Regions from separate parts of the Homo sapiens genome. Here all the other regions are linked to region 2. Evidence: fine-mapped expression QTL. A gene starts in region 2. Each other region holds a variant in brackets. All regions are shown on one strand. Distances are between the middles of the regions.

The links.
Region 1: its variant is fine-mapped to the expression of LINC01011 in whole blood (GTEx, PIP above 0.99).
Region 3: its variant is fine-mapped to the expression of LINC01011 in whole blood (INTERVAL, PIP above 0.99).
Region 4: its variant is fine-mapped to the expression of LINC01011 in whole blood (INTERVAL, PIP above 0.99).

The regions. Positions count from the first base shown.
Region 1 is chr6:2,950,599-2,953,284 of GRCh38, forward strand. It overlaps SERPINB6 (serpin family B member 6), which reads right to left. Exons shown (of 7, transcript NM_004568.6): 5 at 2,446-2,588. Among named protein-coding and RNA genes, the nearest start is that of SERPINB6, 20 kb to the right of the region's middle. The variant T/G (reference allele first, on the strand shown) is at 1,504.
Region 2 is chr6:2,986,680-2,989,365 of GRCh38, forward strand. It overlaps LINC01011 (long intergenic non-protein coding RNA 1011), which reads left to right and starts at 1,288. Exons shown (of 3, transcript NR_026856.1): 1 at 1,288-1,352. It overlaps NQO2-AS1 (NQO2 antisense RNA 1), which reads right to left. Exons shown (of 2, transcript NR_186367.1): 2 at 2,657-2,686. RefSeq lists enhancers at 1,230-2,039, 2,040-2,686 and a silencer at 2,233-2,652.
Region 3 is chr6:3,011,180-3,013,865 of GRCh38, forward strand. NQO2 (N-ribosyldihydronicotinamide:quinone dehydrogenase 2) reads left to right here. Exons shown (of 7, transcript NM_000904.6): 4 at 1,365-1,495. Among named protein-coding and RNA genes, the nearest start is that of NQO2, 13 kb to the left of the region's middle. RefSeq lists an enhancer at 2,636-2,686. The variant G/A (reference allele first, on the strand shown) is at 1,334.
Region 4 is chr6:2,961,556-2,964,241 of GRCh38, forward strand. The region is part of intron 1 of SERPINB6 (serpin family B member 6); the gene reads right to left. Among named protein-coding and RNA genes, the nearest start is that of SERPINB6, 8.7 kb to the right of the region's middle. The variant A/C (reference allele first, on the strand shown) is at 1,581.

The sequences.
Region 1 (2,686 bases), 36 kb before region 2:
AATGAGCTGGGATGCTAAAAAGGCCAGGCAACATTTACACATCTCACCAGAAAAAACTGCACTGGTCACCAACCCCAGCCAGCCAATGAGAAAGACTGGAGGCCAGGAACCACACCCCATCCAACAATCCCCCTCAGTTCCTGACTCGGAGCTGCTCCTGTGAGTTGAGTAAATACCCTGCAATAGGCACAGTCAAAGACGCCGTATGGTCCCCAGTCTCTGGTGTAGCACATTCTTCTGTGTTAAATGGAATAAATAAAATACACTGCGGCGGCAGCTTTCTGCTTTCACGTGGTAGAGGCTCGCCTGGGCTGGCCCTTAGCCTTTGGCTAGAGCAGTCTCCTGGGCCTCGGCTGCCCCACTCATTTCCTTGGCCAGCAGTAGGCATGTTTCTTCCATAACTGACCAGACAGGAACTATTTTCCGGTTTGTGGCTACATGTACCATCTCCGTCACAACGACTCAGCTGTTGTTACAGGATGAAATAAGTAAGTAAATAAGCATGGGCCAGGCGTGGTGGCTCACGCCTGTAATCCCAGCACTGTGGGAGGCCCGGGCAGGTGGATCACCTGAGGTCAGGAGTTCGAGACCAACCTGACCAACATGGTGAAACCCCGTCTCTACTAAAAATGCAAAAATTAGCCGGGCATAGTGGCACACACCTGTAATCCCAGCTACTCAAGAGGCCACGGCAGGAGAATCACCTGAACCCGGGAGGCGGAGGCTGCAGTGTTCCGAGATGGCACCACTGCACTCCAGCCTGGGCAACAAGAGAGAAACTCTGTCTTGGAAAAAATAAAAAATAAAAAAAAAAAATAAGCATGGCTGTGTTTCAGTAAACCTTTAAAAAAAATTAGGTGGTGGGCTGGCTTTGCTGTAGGCTGAAGTTTGCTGACCCCTGCCTTCAGTAATTCCTCCCTGCACCCCTTCAGGGTCCAAAGCCTCCAATCTTGCAATATAAAAAGATCTAACCTTAGTGACTGAATGATTCACTAAATACACAATTATATAGACAAGTTCCAGTTTATATAGAAGGTAATGAAATTAAAATAAGAATCTGTATCAACTCAAAATCTGTGCCCTTGGAGGTACACCTCTGGCCTCAGGCTGGTACGCTCAATACTGCAGCCCCTTCCTTCACCCTTCTTCACTGCAGAACTCAGAAAGCATGACGGGATTCCACATCTCCCCAAACCCACAAGACCTATAGTTCTGGCCTACACCATATAGAAAGCAGCTTTCCCTTTCTGAAACGCAGAACCACTAAGGGGAAGGTTTAGGCTCCCCTCCCCTCCCTTGTTCCTCCCCCTCCCTGCCACCGGGACTGCTGAAGCCAGCTCAGCCATCTTGTGACCATGAGGAAGAAGGCGACGTGCTGAGAATGGTGGAGCCGCCTCCCTGGGATCATCGCCCCAGTGCCAGACCAGCCCAGGTCTCACCTGCCTCCAGACCTCCTAGCAGGGGAGATGAGCTCCTAGGAGATAAACCATGGTGAACCGGGGT[T/G]TCTGTTATCTGTAGTCAAAGCCCTTGTACATCTTGTTAATCATTAAATTTTAAAGAGAGAAATTATTTTGCCAGGGGAAAATAGCACAGTTCATTTCAGAATAAAGCTTCAAAGAAAATAATTCTTTCTGAATTGCGAGGAGAACAGACAATGAAAATAAATTTCTTGAAAAACTGAAGGCTCAAGTTCAAGTTAGCCTGGAAGATCTAACTATGGTCAATGATCAAGAATACACTGTAATTAATCTATTCTGTTTACTTTGTCTATGTTCAAAAATTTCTATAGTTAAAGAAAAACAAAACAAGAGACAATAAAGAAGATTCAGTGAGAGGAAGATAAAGGGCCATCAGCAAATGACATCTTCCACGCTGGAGGTGGTTAATCTCAGTGTCTATCTACATGTTTGGTTTGGTTGTTTTAAAACAAAAATCTGTACTTATCCTTACTATCAAGAGAGGACTGAATATCACTCATCGGTTCAGCATTTACTAAGCACCAGCTACGTGTCTGGCACTTGTCAGAGAGTCCTCCCTGCTCAGCCTCAATTCAGCAGGCTGAGTTGTTCCGCTCCTGCAGTGTGGCACGGAGGCCAGCAGGAGGCGCGGTAGCGGGGCTTCCCGGGACGCCGCCAGAAAGAAAGGAGTGGGTAGGTCCTGATGGGAATGAAGCTAGAGAAAAGGAGGAAATGTCCGCTAGAAGATGGCACGCCATATCTGGAGTCTGAGCTTTAAGACCTTGATCGAGCCTGAGGGCTGCAGCTTCAGACTTGCCCTGTAGGTGGCAGGGCGGATGCCAGGCGCCCAGGGACACGAGGCCACCCAATGGATGTCAAGCAGGAGGGGCAGGGACAGAAAGGCCCCACGGCTGCAGACGCGGGAGGCCCCGAGCCGGAGACGCTCGTGTGAACACAGGCGCTGCTCCTGTCACGGCCCCTTACTCGCCTTGCTGACTTTAAACAGTCTCTCCTCGGTGTTCTCCTTGTCAAACTGTTCATCCCAGTTTCCTCTGAAATAGACAGCATTCACCAGAACCAGCCTTGTCAATGGATCCACTGAGCCCGGAGAGAGCAACTCCGCAATTTTACCTGAGCGGAAGAATTCAAGACCGCATTAGATAGGGGCGGCTGCGGATCCCCGACACATCAGGAATCGGCTGGGGCCTTCTCCTTCAGCAGTCAAGTGC
Region 2 (2,686 bases):
AGTGGTGCCAAGGATAAAAGGATAAGTGTTAAGAAAAAGTAGCAACAATATGTCTGACTGGGAGAATCAAGAAAGGTGTCATAGAGTCCCTAACACTTGAGCTGAGAATGAGAAAGAGCATGAGCTGGCCAGGTGACACACAGAGCATATTCCAACCTAGGAGACTGGGAAATGGGCCAAAATATATACGTTTGAGGAAACAAATAGCTTACTATATAATTAAATATGAGGCAGTTTAGACTGGGCCCTTATGGATAAGTCACACCCATAAATTTTATTTCATCTTACAGGCAGTGGAGAGCCTCTGGAGGATTCTGAGCTTCGTGGTCTCATCATCAGAGTTATGTATGGCAACCATCCCAACCTTTTTGGCACCAGGGAGGGGTTTTGTGGAAAACTATTTTTCCTTGGACAGCAGAGGATGGTTTCGGGATGATTCAAGCACATGACACTTCTTGTGCACTTTATTTTCAGTGGGAGCCCTGAGCTTGTTTTCCTGCAACTATCTGGCCCCATGTGGGGGTGATGAAGACAACGGCAGATTATCAGGCATTAGATTCTCATAAGGAGCGCACATCCTAGATCCCTTATGTGTGCAGTTCACAGTAGGGTTTGTGCTCCTATAAGAATCTAATGCTGCCTGATCTGATAGGAGGCAGAGCTCTGGTGGTAATGCAAGCAATGGGGAGCAGCTGCACATACAGATAAAGCTTCACTAGCTCACCCACTGGTGGCTCACCTCTTGCTGTGTGTCCTGGTTCCTAACAGGCTACAGACCAGTCAGGTCTGTGGCCCGGGGGTTGGGAACTCCTGGTGTATGGAAGAGACTACTCTGCAGCAATGTGGACAAATAGGATGAGGGTGAGCTGTCAGGGGAGACAGGCACACATGGCAGAGCTATTTAAAAAGGAGGATAGATGACCAGGCACAGTGGCTCATGCCAGTAATCCCAGCACTTTGGGAGGCAGAGGCAGGCGGATCACGAGGTCAGCAGTTCAAGACCAGCCTGGCCAACATGGCAAAACCTCATCTCTGCTAAAAATACAAAAATTAGCTGGGCGTGGTGACATGCGCCTGTAATCCCAGCTACTCAGGAGGCTGAGGCAGGAGAATCACTTGAACCCGGGAGGCAAAGATTGCAGTGAGCCGAGATCGTGCCATTGCACTCTAGCCTGGGCAACACAGCAAGACTCTGACTGGAAAAAAAAAAAAAAAAAAAGGAGGATAGACAGGGCTTGGGGATTGGTGGATGGGTAGATAAGGAAGGAGGAGTCTAGCATGACTCTCAGACTACTGACTTGGACCAGCAGGGGAATGGCTGTGACAATAAATAAGATTGGGAAAACAAGAAGGTGAGCAAATTTAGAGGAGAAAATGAATTTCATTTTTGGCATGGTGTGGAAGGCTCGGGAGAGAGGTCTAGGCACCAGATGTCAACGTGAGGTGAAATGGATATAGCTGAAGTCAAGGGTGTGGTGAGGTTTTGCAGGGAGAGCAGGGACCTCCAGCAAGGCCAGTGCATAAGGGAGAATAGAGAAAAAAAGAACCAGAAAAAGACAAGGAGAGGCCAGAGAGGTGTGGAAAGAACCAGGGAAGACAGTTATTCACAACAAACAAAAGAGGGCAGAGTTTTAGAGAAGGAACTGAGCAGTTTGGGGCTCCAGGTGGGGCAGGAGTGGGTGGCCACGGTTGAGGGGCAGTGGCCTTCAAATTGGTCTGGGTAGGTTCTAATGGGTCAGATTGGTCAGTCCTTTCCAGGACACTGAAGGCTGCAGAGGTGTGACTGGATGCTGGTGGAGGGATGCATGGCGGGGAAGCTGAGTCAGATCCTGAAATCCTCCAAGCATGCGCCTGAAATGACCAAGGGAAATGAAGGCGGAGGCTGCTGTCGCCTGGTGGCCTGGGAAGGGCCAAGAGCCAGGGAGCTGGAGGGAGGAGAGAACGTGCGACCTCAGCACGGAGCACTGTAGGGGAGGCGGGGCTGGAGGGAGATGGCGCCGCGCTCCCGGATGAACAGAGAAAGCGACAGGGTGAGTCGCAGGGCACAGTGTGGGATGAGTCACCGACAGCAAGGCATGGACTCCGGGAAGAAGGGGAGACGAGCCGGGAAAGACTTGCATCGGGGATGTGAGCTGAGCTGCACCCAGACAAAAGCGGCTCGGGGCTCCTGAAAGCAGCAGGCACCGCCGGTCCTGCCAAGGGGCTACTTCCTGCGCGGAGTAGGAGAGTAGGAGACCCCAGGCCAGTCCCAATCCCCGGCCCGTCCGGGATGAGGGGGGCTGCGGGAGCTGCGGGGGCCTCCTCCAGGGAGGACGGTTGCAGGGTCCCTCGGCCGCCGCCCACTCCCGGGGGCGTTCCTTCCTCCCAGCTGCGCCCGGAGCGCCTGCTGCCTGGCGAGAGCCCGCCCCTCTGCAACCAGCCCGCTGCAGCGGAGGGCGCCTGGGTGCCCTCGGCCGAGCCAGCAGCCCACGGTCGGCGCCGCACTGTCCCCTGGTGGCGGAGCGCTCCCGCGACCCGGCTCGCCACGCCTGGGAGGGGTCCAGGAGGACGCGGCTGGGACCTGGGGGCTCTCAGGGTGGGGCCTTGGGGGATGAGGCTGGGGCCCGCGGGAAACCGGGCTGGGGCGAGGAGGCTCGCAGGACTTCCTGCCACAGAATGTTTCGATGCTTTTTTTAATTCTGCAAAT
Region 3 (2,686 bases), 24 kb after region 2:
ACTTTTAAGGAAATGTGGTAATCCTCAAGATCACACAGAAAAGCAGTTCAGAAATTTATCAGTTAAATTTTACAAAGAGATTGAAATAATTTTTAAAAAATCAAACAGAAATCTTGGAACTAGAAATACATTTGCTGAAAAATTCATTAGAGGCTCTCAACAGCAGAATGGATGAAGCAGAAGAAAAAATCAGTGAACTCAAAGGCAGGTGATTTGAAAATACACAGAGGAGAAAAAAGAAAAAGGTATGGAGATTTCTTACAAAATATAGAAAATTACCTCAAAAGACCAAATCTAAGAATGATTGGTGCTTAAGAGGAAGCTGAGCAAGAGCAAGGCATAGCAAGCTTATTCAAAGAAATAATAACAGAAAAATTTTCCAAAACTTCAGAAAGAGATAAATATCCTGGTAGAGGAAGGTCATAGAATAAACAGATTTGACTCAAATAGGACTACCCCAAGGCATATAATTATTAAACTCTCAAAGGTCAAGAACAAAAAGAGGATCCTAAAAGCAAATAACATGTAACAGAGCTCCAGTTCATCTGGCAACAGACTTCTCAACAGAAAACATATAGGCCAGGAGGTAGTGGGACATTTTCAAAGTGCTGAAAGAACAAAACTGTCAACCAAGAATACTGTACCCAGCAAATCTAGCCTTCAACTCTGAAAGAGAGAGAGTCTTTCCCAAACAAAGAAAAGCTGAGAAAATGCACCACCACCAGACCCACCTTACAAGAAATGCTAAAGGGAATTCAATAAGAAAGAAAAACACTAATGTGCAAAAAGAAAACATTTGAAGATGTAAAACCCACTGGTAAAAGTAAGTACACAGAACACTCTAATACTGTAATTGTGTACAGTCCACTCATTACTAGTATTAAGTCTAACAGACAAATCTATCAAAAACAATAATCACTACGTGACCTGTTAAGAGCCAAAGATAAGCAATATAAAATATGTAAATCAAGACACAGATACTCAAAAATGTGGAGGTGAGCATGAAATTAAAGCGTAGAGTTTATTTTTTTAGACCTGTTTGGCATTGAACAAGACATCCAGCCTCTCTTGGGTGTCAGTTTGCTCTCTGGTAAATTGGGAAATACACCAGTCTCACCAGTTGTTATGAAGAAAGGTGATGTGTGTAGAGCACAGCACCTGCTAGGTAGCAAGTGCTCAATCAGCAGCCCTCCCAGACTGCTTCTCTTTCCCTAGCTCGGACCCAGGGTGCAGCTTCTGGTCAGGTTGCAGCAAATGTCTTTGACTTGTCTGAGGAGTCCGGTATACACAGTGCTACTGGGATGGTTGGGATGGGCTGTGGATGCCCACCTAG[G/A]AGTGAGAATGTTTGGCCTCTTCCCCGACAGGTACTCTTTCTAATCCTGAGGTTTTCAATTATGGAGTGGAAACCCACGAAGCCTACAAGCAAAGGTCTCTGGCTAGCGACATCACTGATGAGCAGAAAAAGGTTCGGGAGGCTGACCTAGTGATATTTCAGGTTTGTTTTTCTCTAATTAATATATTGAATCAGATTCATCTTATGTACAAACTCTTTCTGAATATTGAGTTTTGTGCTGCTTCTGGAAGTGGCATCAATGTTTTGAGCACAGTTGCACACTTACTGAGCAAATATTGTAACCTGGTTACAACACCTAGTTACAACATTTCACCTAGTTACACCACTTCACCTAGTTACAACACTTCACCTAGTTACAACACTTCATCTAGTTACAACACTACTTTAAACACTGTACGTAGATGTAACACTACTTTTTTTTTTTTTTTTTTTTTTTTTTTGAGACGGAGTCTCGCTCTGTCGCCCAGGCTGGAGTGCAGTGGCGGGATCTCGGCTCACTGCAAGCTCCGCCTCCCGGGTTCACGCCATTCTCCCGCCTCAGCCTCCCGAGTAGCTGGGACTACAGGCGCCCGCCACCACGCCCGGCTAGTTTTTTGTATTTTTAGTAGAGACCGGGTTTCACCGTGTTAGCCAGGATGGTCTCGATCTCCTGACCTCGTGATCCACCCGCCTCGGCCTCCCAAAGTGCTGGGATTACAGGCGTGAGCCACCGCGCCCGGCCGATGTAACACTACTTTAAACACTTTACCTAATTGGGTAAAGATATCCACGTAGCCAATATCACTCACTCCAAATCCCGACTGCCATGTAAATAGGAATGAAGGATATTTCCATTATTCCAGTGGTCCAAGAATCATCTGAAACCTGCCAGTCTTGTTGCTTCCCTTCTCTTCCCGTTCCTGCCCTGAGACATTCTGGGGCTGCTTGAGAACCACATTTATCTGCACAAATGTTTATCAGGGTAAATCAGGCCAAATGCATCTCCTTAAATATCCTGCCTTAAATATCCTGATCATTAAGAGGAAAATCTCTGGTTTCTACCCTCTCAGTGGTTGCTTCACCCCCAGCCCAGCCACCTTCCTGTATTTGTTCACAAGGAGGTGATGCCACTGCAGAGTGAACTGGCCCAGCAAAATGCCCTCCAGGAGTGCTGACTCATCAGGCCACTTCCCGCCACTGCAAGGAAGATGTGCAGGCATGGCTGTGGCTGTGTAAACCTGGCAGCAGAGTACGCACATGAGCTTTGAGGGAATTGTTGGGTGACAGAAATTCCTGTCCAACTAGAAGGAAAGGGGAATCTATTATAAGGGCTCTGGTCACTTGGGCCTCCTG
Region 4 (2,686 bases), 25 kb before region 2:
GAAACTTCTAGGTTAAGAATAAGAAAAGAGGAGATGCCCCAAAGCAAGAAGCACAGCCTGTGAAGTCCGTGTCTCAGGACTCAAAGCCAGCAGACACCCTGACACGTGGGGTTTTCCCTGGCCTGGGGACATGGACTTCTGTCTTTGTCCCCAAGAGGGCTCAGCCCACGTGGAGAGGCTGCCAGGTGAGATGGCTCCTCCATAAACCAAAAAAAAAAGACAGAGGTTAAGTACCATGTCAGCTGGCCAGGGGAAGGTCCCACATGCTCCCCCAACCCCATCCTAGACTATTCTACCGTCAGCACACGTTTTCCCCTCAAATGCTGAAGGACTCTTACGCTTTTTTTTTTGTAGAGACAAGGTTCTTGCCACCTTGCCCAGGCTGCTCTCCAACGCCTGGCCTCAAGTGATCTTCCTGCCTCAGCCTCCCAAGGTGCTGAGATTACAGCCATGCACCACGCCCAGCCTAAAGGACTTTTAATTCAAATGGAAATGTCCACCTAAGAAAGGCTAATAATAAAACACTCCGTCTCCGGTAATATCCCGGAGAATCTGTTTCAGGCGCTGATCTTTATATCAGTAACTTCAACAAAGCAAAGCCACCTTTGTCTGAAGACACGCCCACTGGGGAGGTGCCTGTCTGGCCAGCCCAGGTTACACCATCTGGGGCAGAGGAGAAGTCGGTGCACATGAGTTTCACTGTGTCAGGGGATTTAATTTGAAATACTGAACTGGAGAAACCAAAGCAGGATATTCGGAGGAGAAGTCAGTGCACATGAGTTTTACTGTGTCAGGGGATTTAATCTGAAACACTGAACTGGAGAAACCAGACCAGGATATTCGGAGGAGATGGCACGAGTCAGGAGGAAGACAGGGTCTCTAGTCCTGGCTCTGGTACCCTGGGCAAATCACTGGACTCCTGATACCAGTTTCCTCTCTGTATGAGGAAAAGCATATACCAGATAATCTGGGTTCCCTTCCATCTCTAACATTCAATAATTGTTAATACCAAATGCAGAAGGAAGAGCAAAAATGTAGCTCAATTTTCAAAGCCCACAGTGAGGTCAGTAATGATATTCCATTTCTTAGTTGAAAACACTGCTGACAGCCGTGAAAGGTAAAATTCTATCTATGCCTTACATAAAAATTGCTGAGCAACAAAGAAACAATAAATCAAGGATGTCCTAGAGATTTAATTTTCTTAGCAGAAACTATGTTAGTCATTAAATAACTGAATATCCTACTCCTGATAAACACCCTTACGTCAAACAGCAAGTGGTACTTCCCATGCTTCCTTAACAAGGTAAGAATTACCTACTTCAGCAGCCACCAGCACAGCTGATGATAGAACATTAGTCCCTTAACTCCCCAAACAGGAACAAGATAAAAATATCTGTCGTCCCAACCTTGTGTAACTTTGTTCAGATAGTTCTGGCAAAGGCAAATACAACTCATGAAACATAATGAGAAAGGAGATTGTCAGAAAGGAGACAAAATGAGCACAGTTAGCAAACAATTTGATGGTCTACCCAAAAAGCAGCCAGAATCAGTAAAATACTCTTAAAACTGAAAAATAATGG[A/C]GTAACTGGGCTACTAAAAAAATAGGAAAAACAGACCCCAGTAGAAACACGTGCAAAGGACATTAACAAATTTACCCCCAAAAAAGAAAGACAATAGCTAATAATTATATTTAAAAGTTTCAACTTCAGAAAAAAATATCACTTTTTTGATATATACTATGTGCTAGGTCCACACTGAAAGACCCTTACCCTCTGAGATAGCTGCTGAGAACACCTACGTTTTATAAGCAAAGAAATCGGGCCTTAGCTCTTTAAGTACCATGTCTCCAGAGAACCCAGGGCAACAATGGCAGAATGACGGCTGGAAGCCAGGACCGCATGGCTCTGTAGTTCACTCTCTTAACACCATGGTGCACAGCCTTCCCAAAAAGCAATGGTGGAGAGTACATTAAAGATGCCTTTTCAAACCATGAACCTTGCAAATACAAAAACAATTCATGCTAATACTGACAAAGACAGGCAATCCTTCTCACGCCATGCAAGTAATACGGAGGCAGCAGGGACAGAGCTTGGCCCGTACCCACTCCCGTATTTTCCATACATCCCCCACGCCATCACACCTGCCCACCAGACCATGCAAACCAGGGAGGGAAACAAGATAAGCCATGTTCCACCCCAAATCTTACCCAAGGGAGTTAAGCCTGATGCCCACATGCATACAGGATCAGAACGACGATCCTGACCTCTTGCCTTGTTGTATTACTAAAACCCTCTCCTCAGGGGCTCATCTGCCATGCCCTGATCATGACACATCTGTGCTAACATGATGTTCCCCGGTGCCTGCCACTAGCGTGTGTAATGCTGCTGACACACCTCATGACTATCCATGTCACCCTAAAACACCAGGAACACCTGTCCCGAGGGCCAGCCCGGGAACTCCTGCCCCTGTGCCGCTGCCCTCCTGCTCCAGCATAAGCCCATTATAAAGCCTTGTCTGGGACACTTTCTCTGTCTCATGTCAATTTCCACTGCATGAGAATCTAAGAACCCACGATCAGTAACAATACTGTAAATTGGTACACCAGTATTTCCTGAGTATGATTTAGAATTATGTCAAAAATAAAAGTAAAATACAATAAAGTGAAGGAAGAAAAGAAAATGTCATG